Linked DNA regions of Homo sapiens: regions 1, 2, 4, 5 and 6 are each reported to be linked to region 3. Evidence: microRNA targets listed by miRTarBase, many of them from high-throughput screens and not tested one by one. Region 3 holds a microRNA gene; each other region holds the end of a gene's coding sequence. Distances are from middle to middle.
What was found. The annotated mature microRNA hsa-miR-6754-5p reads CCAGGGAGGCUGGUUUGGAGGA and lies in region 3 at 1,502-1,523, opposite strand. An mRNA with a match to its seed (bases 2 to 7 or 8) in the 3' UTR can be bound and repressed. Matches are read on the target gene's strand: a 7mer-m8 pairs with bases 2 to 8, a 7mer-A1 pairs with bases 2 to 7 and ends in A, and an 8mer does both.

Region 1 (3,956 bases), not on the chromosome of region 3:
CCAACTCTTCCTTGCACCCTCTACACTGAATTCCAAGCAGTAAATACCTGTGATAAGGCCATTATAGCATATTAATAAGTGCTCAGGACCCATAGTGAGCTCCCTTCTGCTGCCTGCTTAGAATGAAGAAAGGTCCCAGTTAATATTTGATTTAATGCTGTCAGTGCATTCTGTGATTTTGACCGATATTAAAGTGCAGCAATCCTGACTGATTTCTTAGTTTCTGACAGTCTATGTTATCTTTTTCTCTGATTATGATGGCTAATCCCATAATCAGACTGTCGGGTAAGTGGGGACATCCCCTCTTACAGATGAGGAATTTGAAACTCAAACAGGACAAGGAACTTTCCCAGGATAGTACTACTAATAAATGTTGAAGCTGCAGTTTGATGCTGTGAAGGTCTGATCTTTCAGTCTAGGTGCTTTCTACTCTGCAGCTTCCACTCTGGGTGCCCTCTAAAGGAGTGCCTTTGGGGTGATGACGTTCCACTCATCTTTGTGTCTTTTCTTTCCTAGGGATGCTGTGAAGAAGTGTTTTGCCGTGTGTCTTGCATAATTCATGGCCAGTTTTATGAAGCTTTGGAAGGCACTATGGACAGAAGCTGGTGGACAGTTTTGTAACTATCTTCGAAACCTCTGTCTTACAGACATGTGCCTTTTATCTTGCAGCAATGTGTTGCTTGTGATTCGAACATTTGAGGGTTACTTTTGGAAGCAACAATACATTCTCGAACCTGAATGTCAGTAGCACAGGATGAGAAGTGGGTTCTGTATCTTGTGGAGTGGAATCTTCCTCATGTACCTGTTTCCTCTCTGGATGTTGTCCCACTGAATTCCCATGAATACAAACCTATTCAGCAACAGCACATAAGCCTTGGGTGCAAGTGATTCCCAGGTGGCAAAAGGCAGCCCCATCAGAGATCACGGGAGCAACAGTAAGGGACAGAGTTTTGGGGTCCACTTGTCCCTCAGCATGGAAGCCATCACCGTGGTCCTGCATAGAGTGAGTCTGCTTCTACTCTGGCATCTGAGAACAAGTGACTCTGCTTTAGACAAGCCCCTGGAGAGCCTGGCCATGGAGTGAGGTAGAAAAGAAGCACTTTTTGGTGGTATATGCTGTTTCTGAATTTGAATCTAAGCATTCTTGGTGTTCTGATTCTGCGCCTGACTGTGGAATGTATTTTCTGACATTAGGTGCAGACTCTTTTTCTCTTGGGTTTTATTTCCCATCCCTCCCTCCCTCTCCCTGCATATCTTTCTTTATGACCTCCTGGCACTAGATGGGGAAAGAACAGAGCAGCAGCAGAAAATGCTGCTGTTTTTTTTTTGGACGAGAGCCCATAGGAGTTGAAAAATCCTGCTGCTCTCAGCTATATTTTTTTCTCCATTATTTATAAATGTTTGCTTTTAAACTGATTTTATTTTCCATTCTCCCCTGGAGTTGGGCCAGGGGAGAGTGGGGTGGGAAGACAGATCCCTGCTGTGCAGCCAGCAGGAAGTAGGCACGCCTGCCCAGTGACCTTTAAATAGTCCCAGTGTTTGCACTTAGCCTGTGCTGGGGACACTGGGGATAAACTGCAGGTGGTCTCATGTCAGCCTGATGCCTAACCTACAAAGTGCTTTTGTGTCCACGATCTTACCTGGTTCTTATGGAGAGCCTTGTGAGGAAGCAGGGATTGTTATACCACTGTGCAGTCAAGGGAATCAAGGCCCACACTGGTTTTTGGATCCACCCAAAGCCACAGCTTCAGCCTCCTTCATGACCCCAGAGTTTCCTGGCCTGTTTCTGGTTGTGCCTCCTGTAACTGCCTGTGACTGTTTCCCTCGTTTTCATCAGCCAAGCCATCTCCTCCCTGGCCCTCCCTGCCCATCTCTTTTGGAAGCTTCTTCCTGGATCTGCAGGATGTTCACTGTCCCTTGTGTTCCCTTTCAGCTCCTCCTTGTTGCCTGACTACGATTAGTGCCCTGTCTTGTCAGCCAGCATTCCTGGCCCTCCAGGACCTCCAGAGTCATCCTACAAATGACGTTTATCTGGATTGCCTTTCTGTTCTTTGCACAGGGCCAACTGGTCCACTAGGGCTCCTCCTCTGTCACTGCTAAACCAAAGGAAGTGGCCTGCTGGTTGTCCCCTTTCTTGTGGCTAATTGCTGAACCTTTCTTTGTCCTACTGTGGCTAAGAACTCTGACTGGTTTTTTTTTTTTTTTCTTTTTGAGATGGAGTCTCACTCCGTCGCCCAGGCTGGAGTGCAGTGGCGTGATCTCTGCTCACTGCAACCTCCACCTCCCGGGTTCAAGCAATTCTCCTGCCTCAGCCTTCCAAGTAGCTGGGATTACAGGTGCCCGCCACCACGCCCGTGCTAATTTTTGTGTTTTTAGTGGAGACAGGGTTTCACCATGTTGGCCAAGCTGGTCTGGAACTCCTGACCTCAGGTAATCCGCCCACCTTGACCTCCCAAAGTGCTGGGATTACAGGTGTGAGCCACTGTGCCCTGCTGATCTTTTCTTCTGAGGCTGGGGAGGTGTGAACAAGCCTGACGGGGCCAGAGAGAGGAGCTAGTCTTCCCAGGTTCTTTCTAGGCTATTGATGACATCCAGTCATCTGCTCAGGTCACTAACCTGTCCTCAGCCAGGAAAGGAAATTTTATGCTACCCCTCTGGCTTTTGTGGGATTCTTTCACATCCCAGGTGCCTCTTGGAGACAGATCTCAGAAGGGCTGTGGTGTCAGAAGGGACATGGAGGAGGTCAGGAGGGCTCATGGTTCCTTTTCTTTAGAACTGATACGAGGCTTGGCTAGTCACTGTGAGCTCCAGCAGCTCCAGCAGCCTGGAATAAGACACCTAGAAGGCTCATCCCTCCATGTCCATGTCCTTTTTTTTTTTTTAGATTGAACAACCATGCTTTGTTTAAAAAATAATCTCAGCAAACTAGGGATACAAGAGAATTTCCTCAACCTGTCGAAGGGCATCTTTAAAATATCTACTGCTAACATCCTATGTAATGATGAAAGGCTGAATGTTTTCCCCTAAGATTGAGAATAAGACAGAGATGTCAACTCTTACCACTTCTATTCAACGTTGTACTGAAAATTCTAGCCACTGCAATCATGTTTTAATTGGGAGTAGGGGGAAAGAGGGAGGGAAGGAGAAAAATGAAAGGCCTTTAGATTGAAAAGAAATGAGTAAAACTGTCTATTCACAGATATTATCATCTATGTAGAAAACCAAATCAAATCCATTACTAAGTTACTGAAACCAGCAAGTGAGTTTCGCAACACAGCAGGATATATAATTGATATACACAAATCAATTGTGTTTCTCCATGTTAGAAGTAAAGAATTAGGAATTGAAAATTTAAAAATAATACCATTTACAATAGCATTAAAATATAAAATTCTTGGGAATAAACCCGACAAACTATGTGGATTATCTGTACACTGATAACTAAAAAGCATTGCTAAGAAAAATTAAGACCTAAGTAAATATCTTGTTGATAGGTTGAGAGACTCAACATTGTTGATGTTAATTCTTTCCCATATTAATCTATAGATATAATGCAGTCCCCATCCAAAGCCAAGCAGGCTTTTTTTTTTTTTTTTTTGTAGAAATTAAAAACTGGTTTTAAGATTCACATGGCATGCAGATGATCTAGAAGATCCACAGTAACTCTCCTGCTGTGCAGCTGGTTCCTAACAGGTCATGGACCTGTCCATGGCCTGTAGGTTGGGAACCTCTGCTACAGAGGATCCAGATTTAAATTCAGAAGAAGCTTCATCTATTTCTGTAGTTTCATTTTCTTGCAATAACTGCTGCATCAAACTTGAACTTCGCAGGATTTTCTGAAGCTGCTCAATTTGGCCATCTTGCTTTTTAATTGTATTTCTTAACACTAGAATTTTCTATTTCAAGTTTTTGTACGTGGCCTTGCGTCTCCTTAGTACATTTTATAGTCGCTGTAA
Region 2 (3,872 bases), 24 Mb from region 3:
AACATGTTACTTCTGGATGGTAGGCTGAAAACTAGTCAGTGACATTAGCATCCAGTCGCAAACCCTGCCCAATTTCCAAATAGGCAGCTGATTACACAAGAGAAGCTACAAAGCCACAAGAGGACAAGTGAAAAAACTGCCAATACCTCCCCGGGCGCCCCCCAGCTCCCTCTTGACTTCAGAAAACCCTGCCAACCCAGCTTCTCCTCAGCTAAACAAGGTGGTCACGCCGAGGCCAGAGGTGCATCTGAGACAGGGAGGGCAGCGTATCTTCCCGCTTCTTCTTCCCAAGGTGCTGGCCCCATGCTTCCCTTTCCCTGAGAAAGGAGATGCTCGCCACAGGAAAGTGAAAGAAATGGGTATGGGAGCACGCGACGAAGTCGTCTCGGTAGGTGCCGATGGAAAAAGGTCAGGGGGTTGGGAAAGTGGGCCCTAAAGATTGAATTTAGGGTTCAGAGGAACCTGGTCTGGGGCAGGTGGTGAGGGGGTTTCCTAAGGGTAGGAGCGGGGAAGGAGAGCAGAAACTTCCCAGGAGGGCAGAGCGATGGATGCGACCGCCTTCGCGCCCCGGCCCGTCCCAAGCAGCACGGATGGCTGCGGCAGAGAAGCTCCAGCGAGGCAGGCGGCCACCGCACTTAAGTACAGAGGCCAAGCAGTGTGCGGGCAAGGGGACAAACTCGCTGCACCCGCCCGCCACCGCCTTCTGTGAGGGCCCGGGTAGTCTAGCAACCGAAAGCAGGAAGCGGAGAAAGGGCGGGGCGGTCGGGCGCTTCCGGGGAGCTAGGCCTCGCCCCCAAGGAGGGAGCGGGGACCCCGGGAAGGTCTGCAACATGTATGGCGGGCAGCGGCTTTCTTCCCCTCATACATCACAGCCCCAGCCTCGGAATCGAAACCGCATTGATGAGTACGATGCCAGTAGCCTTCAACATACTTCCAAGCTGGTTTGCTGTTGGCTTTAGATAACTGTTATGCATAATTTGCTCTAAGAGAGCTGCTGCTTCTCTCCTTTCACCTTAACATTCTCTCCACTGCACAGCTAGAAAGGAAAAATTACCTTCTACACTGCAAATCTTAAGAAACAGAGCTAACAAATTCAAATCACACATTTTGATTAGGTTTAAAAAAATCAATTATATGCATAGAAATTTACTCCAGGCCAGGCGCGGTGGCTCTCGCCTGTAATCCCAGAACTTTGGGAGGTCGAGAGTTGGAGACTAGCCTGACCAACATGGAAAAACCCCATCTCTACTAAAAATACAAAATTAGCTGGGTGTGGTGGCGCATGCCTGTAATCCCAGCTACTCGGGAGGCTGAGGCAGGAGAATCACTTGAACCTGGGAGGCGGAGGTTGCGGTGAGCCGAGATCGTGCCATTGCACTCCAGCCTGAGCAACAAGAGCGAAATTCTGTCTCCAGAAAAAAAAAAAACAAAAAACCAACAACAAAAAAATAAATATACTACAATAAAATTCAAACACGTGTCTTTGGTTAACTATATATGAATATAACCGTATCTGTTACTTTTATCAGTGGGGGGAAAAAAGCTATAAAGCACCTTTTTTTCTGAAATGTTAACCATATTACATCATTGCCAGGAATTAAGTAGGTAAAATATTATCTAATATGGCTATTAACCAATCTAGATATTATAGATAATATTAGACCCCAAAACTTTGATCACACAGCACCATCTGGGACTAGAAGCCTGTTTGTCTAAACTGGCCCCACCACTCCCCATTAAAGATCTCCTGCTCATTTTCTTGAAAGCTGTTGTTAAATGTTTGCACCTTGCATTGTATATGCTTAGAAAAAAAAACAAGTCCTGGTTACATAATCAGAATAACAGGAGTTGACGAGCAAAAGGATAACCCATCAGGATTATAAAAAAAGCTTTATTAGTGCATATATACAAATTTACAAGGTCAGAAACTGGAGAAATACAAAGAGCTTTAAAACACAATTTGCCGTTTCCTCAGTTTAAAGTGACTTTTACCTGATTGTGATACAACAGAAAGTACAGAACAGTAAACTGCTTTTTAAATACTGGAATTTTATGGAGAATACATTCACATAAAGAAAGGAGGTGAATTTTGTTTTGGAACAGGGTTAAGACAATGGAGACATTAATACATAGAGTGTCTTGTTGTATTTACTGCCACATACTTGAGGGGAAATTCTCAAAATCAAGGATATGAACACCTGCTGCTGCCTGTATGCCACCTAGTGTGCGAAACGACCGAGCTACCAGTTCTAGAACTTATGAGAACTACTCTAAAGAGTGTGGCCATCTATCAGCACGAGGTAAACCACTTAGACCTCAGCACTTCAGGGGTGGCCGACTAGAGAAAAGAGGCCAGAAAAAGCTTCAGACAATTCCAGTCAAGCAAGGTAGAATGCAGAGCTGCCTTCTGAATTGCACTTGTTCTGGAGGAGAAGTTAATTCTTCACTTTTGTCAGGGAGTCCTCTACAGAAGTGTTATACTCATGAGCCACATGTTCTTCAAGACTGATGAGGTTAATACACCTAACATGCTAAGTTTGCCAGTTTGAGAATAAAGGCAGCATGGTCAAAGCAATTCCAATCACCTCATCCCTTTGCAAAAACAGAAAAATTACATTTCACAAAAGTGAAAACTTTGTATGCATACACTCTTGCCCAGGAAATTTATAAGATCTCCCCCATAACATTTATAGTTTATTTGACAATAAAACTGGTTAAGACTTTGAACTGAACACAAAACAAACAATAATACAAAAAAGTTTTAAAAACTTAAAAACTATGTGTTTGGAGCCATTTTCCTTCTCTTCAGCCTTGCTCTCCAATCCTCAGGAAGGGCTTCAAAATTAGCATTTCTCTCTGCCATGCCACTGTGAAAACAACATACAGATTATTTTAGTGGAAAGAAAAATTAACAAAAGTATTCATTTCCCAGCAAATAAAAATCTAACTGAAATTAAAAACCTGATCTATCACGTCTATGTTTATGAAAATCTTTTGTTTCTCAGCCAAACATCAGTATATTCTTCATCAAACTTCTTCATTCTGATAGGTCAACCAAACACTACCCCAGTTTTACGTATATGTCTAAGTGCATATTTATTTATTTATTATTGACTGATTGAGACGGAATTTTGCTCTTGTTGCCCAGTCTGGAGTGCAATGGTGCGATCTCGGCTCACCGCAACCTCCGCCTCCCAGGTTCAAGCGATTCTCCTGCCTCAGCCTCCCCTCAGAGTAGCTGGGATTACAGGCATGTGCAACCATGCCTGGCTAATTTTTTTTTTTTTTAAGTAGCGACAGGGTTTCTCCATGTTGGTCAGGCTGGTCTCGAACTCCCAACCTCAGGTGATCTGACTGCCTTGGCCTCCCAAAGTGCTGGGATTACAGGTGTGAGCCACCGTGCCCGGCCTTATTTATTTTATATAAATATACCTCCAATAACCATTAAAGGCACACTGAAGAAATGAAACACGTTCTATTAGAGTTTTTCTTAGCCCACAGGAGTTATGATTCTTCAGGGCAGATATATCTAATCCTCAGTCTACCAACAGGGACCCTGGGATCTAATGTTTTTTTTTCTGTTTTTGAGATGGAGTCTTGCTCTGTTGCCCAGACTGGAGTGCAGTGGCACAATCTCGGCTCACTGCAACCTCTGCCTCCTAGGTCCAAGCGATTCTCCTGCCTCAGCCTCCCAAGTGGCTTGGACTACAGGCGCCTGCCACCATGTCCAGCTAATTTTTATATTTTTAGTAAAGACAGGTTTTCACTATGTTGGCCAGGCTGGTCTCGAACTCCTGACCTCGTGATCCACCCACCTCGGCTTCCCAAAGTGCTGGGATTACAGATGTGAGCCCCTGTGCCCGGCCGGATCT
Region 3 (3,956 bases):
ACCACAGAGCCCGCCTCCCACAGCGGGGGCCGTCCCCTCTGTTCCTGAGCACACTCCCACCTGGCCCTGCGTGGCACGGAGCCCTCCTCCCGCACTGTGGGAACGCAGGACTCGTAAGCTGCCCTCAACCTCATCCGTCCACTACTATGTGCTGTGTGTCGGGGTTCAGCTGTCTCCAGACCCGAGGGCGGGAGGTCCCCCCTCACCAACCAGGTAAATTTGAGGCCATCAGAGCAGGCGGGACCCCTGGGGGCTTCTCCACAGGGGCCCTCACTAAGCACCCGGCTTACAGGGGAGAGCCAGGAGCAGGCGGGACCCCCGGGGGCTTCTCCACAGGGGCCCTCACTAAGCGCCCGGCTTACAGGGGAGAGCCAGGAGCAGGCGGGACCCCCGGGGGCTTCTCCACAGGGGCCCTCACTAAGCACCCGGCTTACAGGGGAGAGCCAGGAGCTCGGTCTCTGCACAGAGAACCCTCCCCCAGGCATGTCCAGGCCCGCTCATTACCACGTCATCCAGAGAAAACTGGGATCCTTGAGCAAAGACGCTTCCGTTCATGGCAATCATGGCACAGCCGTCGTAGTACAGGCGGTCCCCGTCACAACCCTTCTGGTTGGCCAGCAAGTAAATCCCACCGTTCTGAAAAAGGAGGACCCCATAGCGGAGTGGTCAGCTGTGTCCACCACCCTCACCTGCCACCTGCCCAAGTACAGGAACCTCCGCCGAGTCCCGCTAGGTCATCCTGAGTGGTCCCACCACCGCAGAGATAACGCATATGTGTGGGGAAGCACAGACCTGTGAAGCTGCGGCGAGCCCCGCCTTGCTAGGTGCCAGGCTCTACACAAAACATTTGTTTTTCCTTCACAACAACCCTACAAGGCAGACCCCATCACCTCCCTCAGGCATGATGAGGTTCAGACAAGCCAAAGAAAGCTCTGCATGATGAAGCCAAGACTCAAACGCGGCTCAGCTAGACCCACATCTGCCCCGTGAAGGATGAACCAGCACTGCCCCTCGCACGTCTCACTGCCCAACAGCAGGAGCAGCAAACGTACGGGTGTTCCCTACGCCTCACCATGATGCCAACGAACAAGGAGCACGTTCCGGTTCCTGGTCATGGCAGAGAGGGTGACAGGGTTGCTTCATAGGGTGGCTGCGTGGGTGAGATGGGCTGTGCCGGCGAAGCCCTGGAGGGCAGCAGGGCACACTTGTTGAGTCCAGGCCATAATTACTAGCCTGGAACATCCATTGTGTGTGGGCCCAGCCCTGCGATGGGCACTGAGGATGCAGGAGTTCTTGAGATACAGTGTCTGCCCTGTGGCGCACGCTCCCTGGCCCAGCCCCTACCTTGCTGGTGACCATAGTCACGAGATCCACCCTGGTGTTGGCTTTGCGCAGCACTTGGTGGCTGCCCGAGGCGTTGGTGATGATCTCCACGCCATCCAGGCCCATGTCGATGTGCGGGCTGCAGGCAGAGGCAGGTGAAGAGAACAGGCCACCAGACTCCTCCAAACCAGCCTCCCTGGCAGCCCCTTGCACTCTCCCACGGCAGCTCCCAGCCCACGGCCACGGCCACGGCCACGGCCCCAGGACGTCTGCAGTCCCAGGTCCTCCCAGCTGGCCCATATGAGGTGGGCGATCAGACAGCACAGGGGCATGGGGCTGACCTGTGGGGTGTCCAGAGCTCCTCACAGATCTCACTTCCAATGCAGGTGTCCCATGTCACCAGCACCGCATCTCCGAAGGGTACGGTTTCCTGCAGTCGGAAGAGAAGAGTGCATGAGATTCACTAGCCATGCCCTGTCTGGGCCACGCACTACCTAGGGCCACGGACATCCTGCAGCCACAAGAGCTGGAGTTGGCTCTGGGCTCTCGCACATTCCGAAGAGGTGGGTGCCCTGCGGCTGCGCATGGGACACCGGGTGGTGCCAGGCAGAGACGCCCTTAGGAGCCTATGTGTGGAAGAAGGGGACGCCTGTACTCTGAGCAGCCAAGGGGCAGAATGTCACGGACATCGATGGGGCTGCCAATTGGGGCCAGCAGCTTCTGAAGCGACCCTGTCCTGTGATCACACTGAAGCAGCTGCTGCCCTGTGCTGATGAAGCTAGGCCCCCACTCCCAGCCACAAGGCAGTGGCTGAGAGGGGACACCAGGGTGCCTTCCCTTAGAATTCAAAATTGAGAGTAGGGCATTTTGCTGTTGGTCTAGATAACACTTAAATGTCAGAACATAGCCCCTGGGGATGGAGAAGGCTGTCTTCTGCCACAAGGAGGAAATGAAGAGGAGGAAGCCAGTGTGAGTGGGGGAAGGGAGGAAAAGCAGCCCCAAGGCAAGGAGGAGCCACCCTGGCTGCTGTCTGGCCACGCAGCCCCCCTCACTATAGGAACCTGCCTCCTTTGTCTGTTTCAGACCTGTGAGCACTGTGGTGCCTTCCATTACCTGGATCCCAAAGCGTTCCCGCCCCACCTGGTCCACTGTTGGCCGAGAACAGCGACAACCGACTGAAAAACGGGCTCCACACCCAGGGACTCACCTGCTTTGTCAGGTCCTGTATCATCCGAGGCAGAAAGTACTCCTCTGTGTGCCTGGAGAGGAAAACACCGAGGAGCTGAGGATGAGCATCTCAGGACAAATGAGGAATGGCGGCTACATTTAAACAAAACTCAAACTGAACCCTCCGAACTGATGAACTGGCAAAGGAACTGCCAAGCGTTCCCCCCAATGCAATAAACAATCGCATTCAGGTAAAAAGAAAAGAGTATGAAGGTGGCTTGAGGAGACTATGTGACATGGTGGTGGGCTGGGCTCTCCGAGCTTCGGGCTGCCTCAGTTTCCCCACACGCTCATGTTCATCTTTACTGAGAGATGTGTCACAGGGGATTTGCTGAGAACTGGCCACGTTGCCTCATGGAGAAATCCAGGTGGAATTCCTGATCGCTGTTACTGAATCAGAAAAATCGTGTGGCATTAACCCGAAACACAATGACAAACCAGTATCATCCCTGGAATAAAATGATGCTCTCAATTCGAGAAATCAGGAGGAGGGTTTAATACCAACTTTAGTGCAAGGTGTCCCAAGAAGCTCCACCAAGAGGCGGAATCTTCAAAACAGACAGTTCACGCATTTGACTTCCAATAGGCTGTTACGAGATGCACCACTCAGATCTGCAAGGAACTCCGTTTCCTTTTTGCTTTCTTAGAATTCCCAGGAGCCTTCTGGGCATGGTTTTAGTAGTTCTCTCTACTTAAGAAATGTTAAAGGTTGAGAAACTGAGTCAATGATGTCTTTCCCCCTCATTCACGTAGGGAACGGGGACAGGAAGATATCCTACAGAACTGCAGGCTGCCTCGCCATCCCATATTGAGCACTCCATTCACCCTCTGTAGCCTGTTGACGGCGATGCTGCTGCACCGAAATGCATTTTAAATGCAGGAACCGTCCAAACATCTCTCCCTTCATCTGCACCTTTCCCTCGACTCATGCAAAGACACCCTGGACACCGGAACAAAGACCCAGCGGGACAGGCATGTACCCGGCCTTGCTCCTCACTGCAGCTGTGCTCCACAGCCAGCGCACACCTTGAGGATGGCTCTCTGCAGGCAAGGACCAGGCCTTAGTTATGTTTTCCTAAGAGGACCTGGAACCTGGAATGGCTCCTTGAGCCTGCCAAGTACTCTTTACTAAAGCAGGGGCATGCTGAACATGACCATTTCTTGTCATCATTCGGCACAGCTCCCAGAGGATTAGAAACCTCAGCTTTCTCTAAGTGAACCAAAATGTACAGTTGCTTCTGGTGGGCTCCAGCCTCACCTTCCTGCCACCTCTTCCACGGGGATGAAAGGAATACCATCCCAGAGGGCCCAGTGTGACACCTGACACCGAGGCGTTCATGAGACGAACGGGGAAGAAGGAACAGGAGCCCCACACTTATGCTCTGAAATCCTAAAGACAACATCAA
Region 4 (3,956 bases), not on the chromosome of region 3:
AGGAAGGACAAGTTCCTGCCCAGAACGTGCTAAAACCAAGCTTCCCCCACACTCACTCCTCTCCTGCCTCCCACAGACATGATCAGCCAGCGTTCAGCGGGTGGCCGCCCTGGCTCTGGCCCACAACTGGGCACTGGCCGAGGGACCCTGCGGCTCCGATCCCGGGGCCCCGCCACGGTGGAGGATCTGGTGAGTGCTCCAGCCGGACCCTATCTCCGGCATCCCTTCCCTTTCTTTTTTTTTTTTTTGAGACAGAGTCTCACTCTTGTCACCCAGGCTGGAGTGCAGTGGTGCAATCTCGGCTCACTGCAACCTCTGCCTCCCAGGTTCAAGCGATACTCCTGCCTCAGCCTCCCAAGTAGCTGGGATTACAGGTGCCCACCACCATGCCCAGCTGATTTTTGTATTTTTAGTAGAGATGGGGTTTCACCATGTTGGCCAGGCCAGGAGTTGGTCTCGAACTCCTGACATCAGGTGATCCAGCCTCCTTGGCCTCCCAAAGTGCTGGGATTATAGGCATGAGCCACCGCGCCCAGCCCTCCCTTCCTTTTCATAACCGGCAGCATTACCTGTTAGCTGAGGGGACTCTGGGCAGACAGCCTGGATTCTAGTCCACTTCTGCCACTTCCCAGCTCCCAGGGACCTTCCTTGGGCACATGGGCCGCAGTTTGCCCATCAGTAAAATGGGGATGAGCTGAACACCGATACCACCTTCTCAGGGTTGTCCTGAGGTCTAAATACGAATATATGTAAAGTGGTGACAATGGCAGTCCGTCCAATTACTATGTATATTCACATTGTTATGATGTCGCTGTCACCCCTCCCTGGCCCCCAGCCCTCTGCCTTTGAAGAGAAGGCCATTGAGAAGGTGGATGACCTGCTGGAGAGTTACATGGGTATCAGGGACACGGAGCTGGGTGAGTGAGGGCTGCCTGGGGGAGGGGGCATCTAGGTCTGCTGGGGGCCGAATCCACCCTGAGCCCCTTGGTCCCTGGTGTCATTTGTGCCTCCGTTCTGACCCCTCCCCCAATAGCGGCCACCATGGTGGAGCTGGGAAAGGACAAAAGGAACCCGGATGAGCTGGCCGAGGCCCTGGACGAACGGCTGGGTGACTTTGCCTTCCCTGACGAGTTCGTCTTTGACGTCTGGGGCGCCATTGGGGACGCCAAGGTCGGCCGCTACTAGGACTGCCCCCGGACCCTGCGATGATGACCCGGGCGCAACCTGGTGGGGGCCCCCAGCAGGGACACTGACGTCAGGACCCGAGCCTCCAGCCTGAGCCTAGCTCAGCAGCCCAAGGACGATGGTGAGGGGAGGTGGGGCCAGGCCCCCTGCCCCGCTCCAATCGGTACCATCCCCTCCCTGGTTCCCAGTCTGGCCGGGGTCCCCGGCCCCCCTGTGCCCTGTTCCCCACCTACCTCAGCTGGGTCAGGCACAGGGAGGGGAGGGATCAGCCAAATTGGGCGGCCACCCCCGCCTCCACCACTTTCCACCATCAGCTGCCAAACTGGTCCCTCTGTCTCCCTGGGGCCTTGGGTTCTGTTTGGGGGTCATGACCTTCCTAGTTTCCTGACGCAGGGAATACAGGGGAGAGGGTTGTCCTTCCCCCCAGCAAATGCAATAATGCCCTCACCCCTCCTGAGAGGAGCCCCCTCCCTGTGGAGCCTGTTACCTCCGCATTTGACACGAGTCTGCTGTGAACCCCGCAACCTCCTCCCCACCTCCCATCTCTCCTTCCAGGCCCATCCCTGGCCCAGAGCAGGAGGGAGGGAGGGACGATGGCGGTGGGTTTTTGTATCTGAATTTGCTGTCTTGAACATAAAGAATCTATCTGCTGTTGGACCTGTGTGGCTTCGGGGTGGGAGAGGGGGAAGATTGGGGCTGAGAAAGAATTCAGCAGCTGAAATCCATCTTCCGCAGGCTCCAAATTGAATTAGGAGCTGGCACCAAGCCACCTGCCCCCTCCCACTGTTCCTTCTGGCTGCAGGCCACCAGGCTTCCAGGCAGGGCCAGAGCTTCCTGGACTACTGAGGGTTCAAATCCTGCCCCCTCTCCCACAAGGCCTCCTACCCCCTGGAGCTTCACAAGGCTGCTGTCTGCAGCTGGTGACAACCCCCGGACCGTGGGGAGCACCAGGGCATTGAAACCTGGCTTGGAAATAGAAAGATGGAACCTCAGGCCTGCCAGAGCCCCACCCCTACACCGGGAGGTTGGGGGCAGGCGTGAGGCAGCCCCCACCCCACCCGGCCCAATGCTGGACACGCAGGCGTCCATGGGGCACCCTGCTTTGTCCTAGACATAAACCCAGCATACTTGTTTTGACAACCCACTCATCTTCGAGGATTGAGGGTGATCAGGGAAAGGCGGGGTGGGACCCTGGCCAGACCTGGAGGGAAGGGAAGGGATTGAAGCAAGGGGCGCTGGGCCAGAAGGCCCCACAGGAATGCTTGGGGGTGAGCCGAGAGGCTGTGGGGAAGTCCGAGGCCAGCTTGCAATCCTCGTTCCAAAAGGCGGGCGGGCACTGGGCCACCAGGAAGAGGGGAAGGGGGAAAAGGGGAAGACCCTGGGGGCTGGGTGTTGGTGGACAGACCCGGGTGGAGTCGGGGAGCCGCAGTCCTGGTGACTCAGGGCATCCCCGGGCACCTGTGGGCTCCTCAGGTGTCTGTGCTGGGAGCCGCTTGCGGTGGTGAAGGGGTGTGGCTATGTGTGTCTCGGGTGTTGGGTAGCACTGTGAGTCTATCAAGAGTGTTGATGGCTCGTGACGCAATGAGGGAGGGCTGTGTCGTGGGTAAGGGATGTGATAACCGGCTCTGTGTTCCAGGGCAATTGCAGGTGTAACTGGCAGTGTCTGGTGGTGGGGAGTGCAACGGAGTGACTGTGTCTTGGGGTGTCCCGGGGTGTGGGGGTGTGTGTCTTAGGGTGCTGTTTCTGGGGCAAGGAGGGGTGCTTGGCTAGGCCTTGGGGTGTTCAGGGGTGTCAGGGTATGTCTCGGGGTGTTGCTGTTTCCTGGGTGGGGGTGCTGGCTAGGTCTAGGGGTCTCTAGGGGTGCAGGTGTGTGTGTCTCAGGGCGTTGCTGTTTCTGGGTGAGGGTGGGGGTGGCCAGCTAGGTCTCTGGTGTCCAGCGGCGGGGGGTGTCACTTCTTGTGCCTTGGGTGTACGGAGTGTGCTGGTGGGGCCTGTCTGGGATTGTTGAGGGGTCATTGAAAGTCAAACAGAGTGTGGTCAGGGGCAGTTTTGGCAATAAGGAGTGTGTGTGCGTGTGTGTATCTCTCGGGGTGCCAAGTGAGACCCTATTTCCCAGCACTAAGGAGGGTGGTTCGGGTGATCATCTCAGAGGGCTGCATTTTGGGGTGTTGGGAGGGGCTGGAATTGAGGCAGTAACTCTGGGTGCGTCCCGGCGCTGGGGGTAAGACCCTGAGTTCAGGGATGTGGCGGCAGCAACCTGGCTGTGCTGAGATGGGGACAGGATGAAACTGAGTGGTAAGTGACAGGATTGTATGTCTTAGGGTGTGAGGCTGTGCCAGTGTGACCCTACTTCTCAGGGCAGGAGGCGAGTCTTTGTGTCTTAGGACGTGTGTCACAGGTGTCACTCAGCCCATCTTAAAGGAGCCAGTCACTGGGGAGAGTCCCCAGGTCGCCAGGCCTCCTGGTTCCCCTGCCCCCTTTCAGCCTCCTCCCAGGATATGACTCGCTGTGGCCCTAGCCGGGGCTTAAGCCCCTGTATAAATAGGCGGATCCCCTGGCCAGGCTGGGCCTGACCCAAGCTGGTCTACCCGAGGCCCTGCCCACCAGCACCCACCCCGACATCCACGAAGGCTTTGGCAGGGCAGGGGGGGCATTGCTGGCCCCACAGAATTGGAGTTAGCCTCTCTAGCTCCAAAGCCCCAGGGAGGGGGGCAGTGGCACCCCCTGCAGCTGCCCCAGCCCGCCCCAGACGACGCTCACATTTTCCAGTG
Region 5 (3,000 bases), not on the chromosome of region 3:
GGAAAAACCGTGAATTTACTTGAAAGGCAAAGGCCGCATGAGCTGGCTGCATGAGCTGCAGTCCGTGGACATGGATTACAAGCACTTGTGGGTCTGTGGCTCTGCTGGGACAAAAGCCTTCCTCCCTGGGCTGGGGAAGGGAGGACCAGGGCCATGCCTGCTTTCCTCCTGCACAGATGGCACCCTCTGGCGGTCCCCCCCAGCAGCAGCCCCCCGTGGCCCAGCAACCGCAGGCACAGGGGCCGCCGGCACAGGGCAGCGAGGCCCAGCTCATTTCATTCGACTGACCCAGGCCATGCTCACGTCCGGAGTAACACTACATACAGTTCACCTGAAACGCCTCGTCTCTAACTGCCGTCGTCCTGCCTCCCTGTCCTCTACTGCCGGTAGTGTCCCTTCTCTGCGAGTGAGGGGGGGCCTTCACCCCAAGCCCACCTCCCTTGTCCTCAGCCTACTGCAGTCCCTGAGTTAGTCTCTGCTTTCTTTCCCCAGGGCTGGGCCATGGGGAGGGAAGGACTTTCTCCCAGGGGAAGCCCCCAGCCCTGTGGGTCATGGTCTGTGAGAGGTGGCAGGAATGGGGACCCTCACCCCCCAAGCAGCCTGTGCCCTCTGGCCGCACTGTGAGCTGGCTGTGGTGTCTGGGTGTGGCCTGGGGCTCCCTCTGCAGGGGCCTCTCTCGGCAGCCACAGCCAAGGGTGGAGGCTTCAGGTCTCCAGCTTCTCTGCTTCTCAGCTGCCATCTCCAGTGCCCCAGAATGGTACAGCGATAATAAAATGTATTTCAGAAAGCATCAGCGTTTTTTCTTTAATTAATTTTTTTGAGATGGAGTCTCACTCTGTCACCCAGGCTGGAGTGGTGATCTCCGCTCACTGCAAGCTCCGCCTCCTGGGTTCAAGCGATTCTCGGGCCTCAGCCTCCCGAGTAGCTGGACTACAGGTGCACCCCATTACCATGCCTGGCTAGTTTTTGTATTTTTAGTAGCGACGGTGTTTCACCATGTTGGCCAGGCTGGTCGTGAACGCCTAACCTCAGGTGATCCACCTGCCTCGGGCTCCTAAAGTGCTGGGATTACAGGCATGAGCCACCGCGCCCGACCTGCATCAACGTTTGCTCAGGGGGCAGGTGGTCAGGCTGATGGCCCAGCTGCAGGCAGGGTCATTTCCAGCCTGCCCCTCCCTGAGGCTGCGTGCCAGGGTTCATGTGTGCCCTCCGCGGCTCTGCACTGACCCCGCCGGTAGCTGGGGAGGAGTTTGGGCTTGGCGCCTCCTTCGTGTAGTGGCTGAAGCTTCCCGGGTGCTCCTCATTCCTGGGAAGGGAGTCGGGTGATGGGAACGGTGGGAGCTCAGCGCTCCGAGTCTGCGGCCGGGGGCCAGCGGGGCTGAAACGCGCCTCCTGAGTGTTGAAAGCGGCAGGCGCCGGCCTTTGCACCCAGAGGCCAGGGCGTCTCACTCACCTTCACATCCAGGCCTCTTAGGGGAGCGCGGCTTTGGCTTTTCCAGGAAGGAATGGACTCCAACGGACAGGGAAAGAAGAAGTGTGGAGAGACGGGCAGGATAAGCAGGCACTGGGCCCAAGCCGCCCTTGGAGGCTCTGCCTGTTCTGATCTGAAGGCGGAGGCTCAGCCGTGCTCTCCCAGGAAGCCACCTGGGCGTTTGGGGCTTTAGCTAGGAAAGAGGATGTCGCCTGCGGCTGCGAAGGCGCCAAAGCCCAGACCTCGCGCCTCCGCCCGCGACGGCGGCACTGGGGGCCCGGAGCGGGCGGGAGACGTGGATTACTGCGGGCTTCGGGGCCCTAGCCTCGACCGCGACGTTCGCTCGCATCGCGTACGGACAGAAACCCGTGAGCGCTGAAGAAAGAACACCTGAATCCGGAGCCCCAGCCCCCGTCGCTCGTTTGCGCGACCCCAAAACCTGGCGGGACGAGGGTCGCCCGATGTCTAGCTGCCGCCACAGACGACGCTTTTGCGTCTGCGCAGCGCGCCGCCTTGTGGGTAATCTCAGGGTGAGACGAGGCTAGCGCGAGGTACGGCTAGAGCGTCATTTCCGGCTCGAATGCCCGGCAGCCGTGGCGGCTAGAGCGTTCCTCCCCAGCTCGAATGCCCGGCGGCCGAGGCGGCTAGAGCGTCGCCTCCTCCCGGGGAACCGCGTGTGACCTTCCAGCCCGCGGACCGATGCTGCCGGCGGCCGCTCGCCCCCTGTGGGGGCCTTGCCTTGGGCTTCGGGCCGCTGCGTTCCGCCTTGCCAGGTACGCGGGATCCTGGGGCGGTCCGGGCCGGCAGGCGGGTTAGGGGGCAGCCGGGCACTGAGGGGTCGATCCGGGCGAGGAGGGCGGCGGGGCCGGCCTCCCTGCAGCGGCCAGGCCGGGCTTGGGGGTCCCATCGGGGGCGCGGGGAGGAGGCCTCCCGGTGCGCACGCCCCTTCCCTCCTGGGCCGTGGAAAGCGCCGGGGTCGGCCCCAGATGACCTTGGACGATTCCCTGCTCCTCCCTTGGCCTCAGCCTTTTCCGCAGCAAAGGCCCATCCGTGGGTGCGGCGTTTTGCGGCCAGGGGCCCCCATGTTTTGGGAGGCTTTGCGCAGGAAGATGCACCTAAGTAATAGTTTCGCCACCGCTGGGTTGATGTAGTTCATTCAAACCAGAAACTTGAGGTTTGAGTGGTATGGCTGCAAATAAACACGTGGCTTTCTAAGGCTCTTTGAAGAATTTAAAGTAACTTGCAAATCTTATCAATACGGACCCCTTGAGGTCTGAGAACCCTGGACTGGGACCAAGGAGCTAGGTAATTTCCGGCCCTAGTGATTACCAGCCTGAGCTTATGGCACCCACCAGTCCCCCAGTTGTCCTGCCCCTCTGGTTTCTGCAGCCCCTTCCATTCCAGGACTGACAAGTCTGTTTTAATTGGGGGTGGGGGCTAGGCGACAGGTGCCATGTGTCTGTGCCGTGCGACATATGAGGAGCAGCGGCCATCAGAGGTGTGAGGCCCTCGCTGGTGCACCCCTGGAT
Region 6 (3,956 bases), not on the chromosome of region 3:
CAGCCAGGAGGCTCACAAAGAGGCCTTTATTTATCTAGCTCAAAGTAGACACTATCACAATCTTGTTTGTTACTCCTTTTACTAAAATAGTTCAAATCAATGTTTTTACCACACTATCAAAAAGTTCTATTTCTTCTTGTCTCCCCACGTCAGAGTGGTTGAATAGAAGGTAGAAACAGGCCGGGAGTCCACGGGCTCCCAGCTCTAAACGGCGCCAGGGCAGGAAGGGGTGGCTCCAGGTCTCACTGTGGCACCTTCTACAGAAAATAGACGTAGCTGCCGGGCCCGGGGACAGAAACCAGACGTTCCAGTCCATCTCCAAAAAGCAGCACAAATACTTTGCCCCACAGTATGAAAAATATACACCTCTACCGCTCTGCAGTCATGCATTTAGTTTTAAGAAAAAAAAAAAATCAGTAGTATGTATCTTGTTTCCTCAAGTTTCAAGAAAAAAAAAATGAAAGGTCACTTTTTTCTCTTTAAACACTGATGTGTAGCTAGTAACTTGGATAAAAAGGTGCCACCCTACAAAATGTGCTCAGCATGTTCTGAGGCCAGGATGGGCTTGGCCACCTGGGCTGGGGCGAAAGGAGACCTCCATCTGTCACAGTGGAAACTGAAGCCGAGTGCCAGTGCCGCGTCCGGCTTCAAGATCAAGAGTCAGAGCCTTTGAAATGGAAAGGGGGCATCTGAAAGGGCACCCCCACTGGGGGCTTTCAGAGCTAAGGCTCCAGAAGGAAGGGGGTCGCCCTGCTAGTGACGGAGCTGGGAGTCACCCTGAGCTACAGCATGCCCAGATTTCCCCTGTGGGAAGCCCCATCTGACCTTCTACAGCCCACGGCTCTGCAACTGCCACCTGTACTCAGGTACATGGCGTCGCTGCTGCTGGCTTTTAAAATCAGCTATTAGTTTGAGATGTGACAGTCGCCGACAGGGTTCTGTCCTAGAAAGCCATCCCAGTGCCGTGTTGGCTCAGGGGTCACCAGCTTTGTGCTGCCTCCGTAACAGCAGGAGGGTTCTCAAAGCAATGTTCCACTGATCCCTGGATGCCACTGCAGCATTAAAGACAGGGTCAGTCCCCTTGAGGGGAAAGGTGGCTTCAAGGCTGTTCTCTGGGCCTGTTTGCAGGAGATCCGCAGGTACCAGGAGCCCGTACTTATTGCTTATTTCAGTGGTGGCCACGCCAACCTGACCCAAACATGATGCACACGGGCTCCCAGACTTGGCTGCCACTCAAAATGGACCCACAGCCCTTGGGCTACTCTGCGGTTCTTTGGACTGCAAGACCCAGAGGGGCCTCTGCTCAGCTGCCCACTCGGGCAAGAATCACTGGGTACCATGAGCAGCAGGTGTTCACCCAACTTCACGTGTACACCCCTAGTGACCGGGAGCGCACCACCTGACCGGGCGACACTCCTTCCCAAAGAGCCTCCTGGCAACACCCACGGCAGGAGCGCCACACCATCCCATCACCAGCACCCACTTACCCCCCTGGGGCTAAGATGGGGGGCGTGAGCCTTTCCCCTGAGAGCAAACGGGCAGCAAGAACTGCTCAGAATAGAGCCGCCAGCTAGGGAGAGGGACAGGGCGGCCATCTCCCTCCTCTTGCCTGCATCCCCAGCCCTGGGCCTGCATGAGACCTGCTGGGTAGGAAGACAGCCTCTCTGGGCTCTTCAGGTGGGGCTGAGCAGCCCCTGGAAGAGCACAGGAGTCTGACGAGGACCTGGTGAGGTCCTGGACCCAAGAGCTAGGGCTGCTTACAGTGGCATGAGCGGATGTGGGGAAGCGGCCTGTCCCCGTGCTGCAGCTGTGGGATCAAAATCCCTGTCATGTGCCACACATCACCCCCTCTAGGCCTTACTTTCCTCACACACACAGTTTTCTATTGCACTTTACAGTTTATACATGGTCATTTACACTGAAGATCTCACTTGATGCCAGAATCCTGTGAGGAGGGCCTTATGCTGCCCATTTTACTACTGAGGACACGGGCTCAGAGTGGGGAGGCAACTCTCCACCCGCAGCGACTGCAAGGCAGCAGAACTCAGCTCCACCCGGCCCGCCCTCAGCCGTCGGCTGTTGGCTCACGCCCCCTCAGTGAGGACCCCTGCCCTGTGGCGCTGGATGACCTGGAGCCATAAGCATGGCCGAAAAGGAACCTCAGAGACCTGTTTCCACCAAGAGCCCAGACAGGCTGAGTGAACTGCTAAAGGTCACACCACAAACTAAAGGCAGAACCTGGCCAGACACGCTCCTTCCCAAAAAGAACAGAACTCTCATCTGCAGCCTACACAGCTCTGTCCACAGGGACCCAAGATGCAGCCAGGCCCTGGGGGAGGTCACAGCCAACCAGAGCCCCAGCTGTGGCCCAGTGCTGCCCATCAGGAAAATCACATGTGGCTCAGCCCAGAAACTCTCCCCAGGCCCTTCCTGTTACTGGCCTGTCATGTAAACCACGAAAAGGGACGTGCCTCAGGCATGGGGCAGGAGGAGCCCAAGAAGGGCATAGCCTGGACAGGGTGGCAGGGGGACATTGCAGAGACTGGGGGGGAGGGGGATGACCTCCAAAAGCAAGGAGCAGCGGGCATCGGGTGGCTGAGCACAGATCCCCAGGTGTGAGGGCACCCTGACCTCCAAGGCTGAGGGTCACAGGAAGGGCCCAGGGCAGCCTCCAGCCAGCCACAGATGTGGTGAGTGGCCTTGTCCACATGCCGGGGACCCAGTGCTTGGGGGGCCTGGGGCCAGGCCACGGCATTTGGGCAAGAAGTGGTGCCACCTGCGTCAAGACCCAGGTAGTGGTGGTCTCTGTCCAGTGTGGGTGGCAGCCGGGGAGTAGAGGGTTTGATGAGTGGCCCCTCCATCCCAGGCAGGACAGAGGAGCCTGGACAGTTCCCAGGCTGGATCTCAGAAGCAGCCTGCAGCCTCTTGCTCATGGAGCCCAGGGCCCAGAGGGGGAATGAGGCGTCCGGGCCGCTCTGCTGCAGGAACAGTCGCAGCGTCTCGTCTTCCCAGGTTGCTGGTGTATGAGGCGGGAGATGGCGGCTTGGGCCAGTGCATCGGACCCATGGCAGCTGGGCCAGGGCGGGCAGCGTCCTATGTACAGTTCACCACAGAGGAAGAAGACAGGGGCTGGGCTGGAGGTCCTGCCCGTGTCTGGGGCCTGAAACTCCCCCTGGGGACCCCCAGCAGGGCCAGTCCACGTCCACAGAAGAGTGGCCCTACAAAGGCCCCTTGAACTGGTTCCCAGACAGGTGCTGCCGTATGGAGGGCTTGGAGCTGGCTGCATCTCCCAGCTTTCTCCAGACCACCTGTGGAGAGGAGAGAGATGTGAGTGGTGGGACTCACCCGCGTCCACCTGCCGCCTATGCACATCCGCCGCCTCATCACGGCAGAATCACCCACGTCCTCAGAGCCATGGGGCCAGGAGGGACACGGAGGCCACTGCAGGCCCAGAGACACCCACACCAGGTCTTTGCATGCCGCGCTAACTATCGGGCCTGAGCAGGTCACTGCTGGGGTGTGGCTCAGCCTTGCAGCTGTCCAGTGGGGTCCACAGGCCCCACTAGGTGATGCGGGGGAGGGGCTGCACAGTTCAGAGCCTCTCGCCCCCCCTTTAAGTCCTGGGTTCAGACCCTATGAAACTCCTTCCCCGATGGCTCCTGCAAGCACCCCCAAGGAGACCGCCGATGGTGCTCAGCTGGGTCGAGCACGGAGCTCTCCTGGGCAGCCCCAGCCTGGTGGGCTGGAGGGTTCCACCTGGACCTCCTGCTCTGAGCACCATCTGCCCAGCCAGCAGCCACAGGGGGCACCAGCAAGCTGAGAGGCCCGGGGGCCAGCACCCAGGGAACACCTGGGGTGAACAAACCAGTCCCGGGGGGGTGGGGGGCTCAAGCTCTATCCAGAACCCCAGGCACGGCACTCCTGGGGAGGGCGGATCTGCAGACACCAGGGGCCCT

Region 1: the mRNA of SFT2D2 is a reported target of hsa-miR-6754-5p. Seed matches in the 3' UTR shown: 7mer-m8 at 1,243-1,249, 7mer-m8 at 1,850-1,856 and 7mer-m8 at 1,860-1,866.
Region 2: miRTarBase lists FNBP4 as a target of hsa-miR-6754-5p. Seed matches in the 3' UTR shown: 8mer at 2,453-2,460.
Region 4: miRTarBase lists GIPC1 as a target of hsa-miR-6754-5p. Seed matches in the 3' UTR shown: 7mer-m8 at 1,359-1,365, 7mer-m8 at 1,521-1,527 and 7mer-m8 at 1,653-1,659.
Region 5: the mRNA of HGS is a reported target of hsa-miR-6754-5p. Seed matches in the 3' UTR shown: 7mer-m8 at 367-373 and 7mer-A1 at 461-467.
Region 6: the mRNA of CCDC85C is a reported target of hsa-miR-6754-5p. The part of its 3' UTR that is shown has no 7-base or 8-base seed match.

What each region holds. Positions count from the first base shown.
Region 1 is chr1:168,241,985-168,245,940 of GRCh38, forward strand. It overlaps SFT2D2 (SFT2 domain containing 2), which reads left to right. Exons shown (of 8, transcript NM_199344.3): 8 at 517-3,956. The coding sequence ends at 556. It also overlaps the pseudogene ANKRD36BP1. Among named protein-coding and RNA genes, the nearest start is that of SFT2D2, 18 kb to the left of the region's middle.
Region 2 is chr11:47,714,646-47,718,517 of GRCh38, forward strand. It overlaps FNBP4 (formin binding protein 4), which reads right to left. Exons shown (of 17, transcript NM_015308.5): 17 at 1,849-2,867. The coding sequence ends at 2,777. It overlaps AGBL2 (AGBL carboxypeptidase 2), which reads right to left and starts at 724. Exons shown (of 19, transcript NM_024783.4): 1 at 530-724; 2 at 1-105. The coding sequence starts at 5. RefSeq lists an enhancer at 402-461.
Region 3 is chr11:71,471,075-71,475,030 of GRCh38, reverse strand. It overlaps MIR6754 (microRNA 6754), which reads right to left and starts at 1,528; the gene lies at 1,463-1,528. It overlaps NADSYN1 (NAD synthetase 1), which reads right to left. Exons shown (of 21, transcript NM_018161.5): 6 at 2,531-2,582; 7 at 1,665-1,753; 8 at 1,345-1,462; 9 at 505-636. RefSeq lists enhancers at 890-1,796, 1,797-2,704.
Region 4 is chr19:14,475,645-14,479,600 of GRCh38, reverse strand. It overlaps GIPC1 (GIPC PDZ domain containing family member 1), which reads left to right. Exons shown (of 9, transcript NM_005716.4): 7 at 77-189; 8 at 836-917; 9 at 1,034-1,839. The coding sequence ends at 1,185. Among named protein-coding and RNA genes, the nearest start is that of PTGER1, 2.3 kb to the right of the region's middle. RefSeq lists enhancers at 739-1,254, 3,594-3,956 and a silencer at 2,695-3,177.
Region 5 is chr17:81,701,332-81,704,331 of GRCh38, forward strand. HGS (hepatocyte growth factor-regulated tyrosine kinase substrate) reads left to right here. Exons shown (of 22, transcript NM_004712.5): 22 at 177-790. The coding sequence ends at 287. MRPL12 (mitochondrial ribosomal protein L12) reads left to right here and starts at 2,036. Exons shown (of 5, transcript NM_002949.4): 1 at 2,036-2,244; 2 at 2,913-3,000. The coding sequence starts at 2,171. RefSeq lists enhancers at 1-311, 916-1,519, 1,464-1,533, 1,520-2,123 and a silencer at 2,024-2,403.
Region 6 is chr14:99,512,028-99,515,983 of GRCh38, forward strand. CCDC85C (coiled-coil domain containing 85C) reads right to left here. Exons shown (of 6, transcript NM_001144995.2): 6 at 1-3,308. The coding sequence ends at 3,219. CCNK (cyclin K) reads left to right here. Exons shown (of 11, transcript NM_001099402.2): 11 at 1-413. Among named protein-coding and RNA genes, the nearest start is that of CCNK, 33 kb to the left of the region's middle. RefSeq lists enhancers at 1-278, 279-1,279.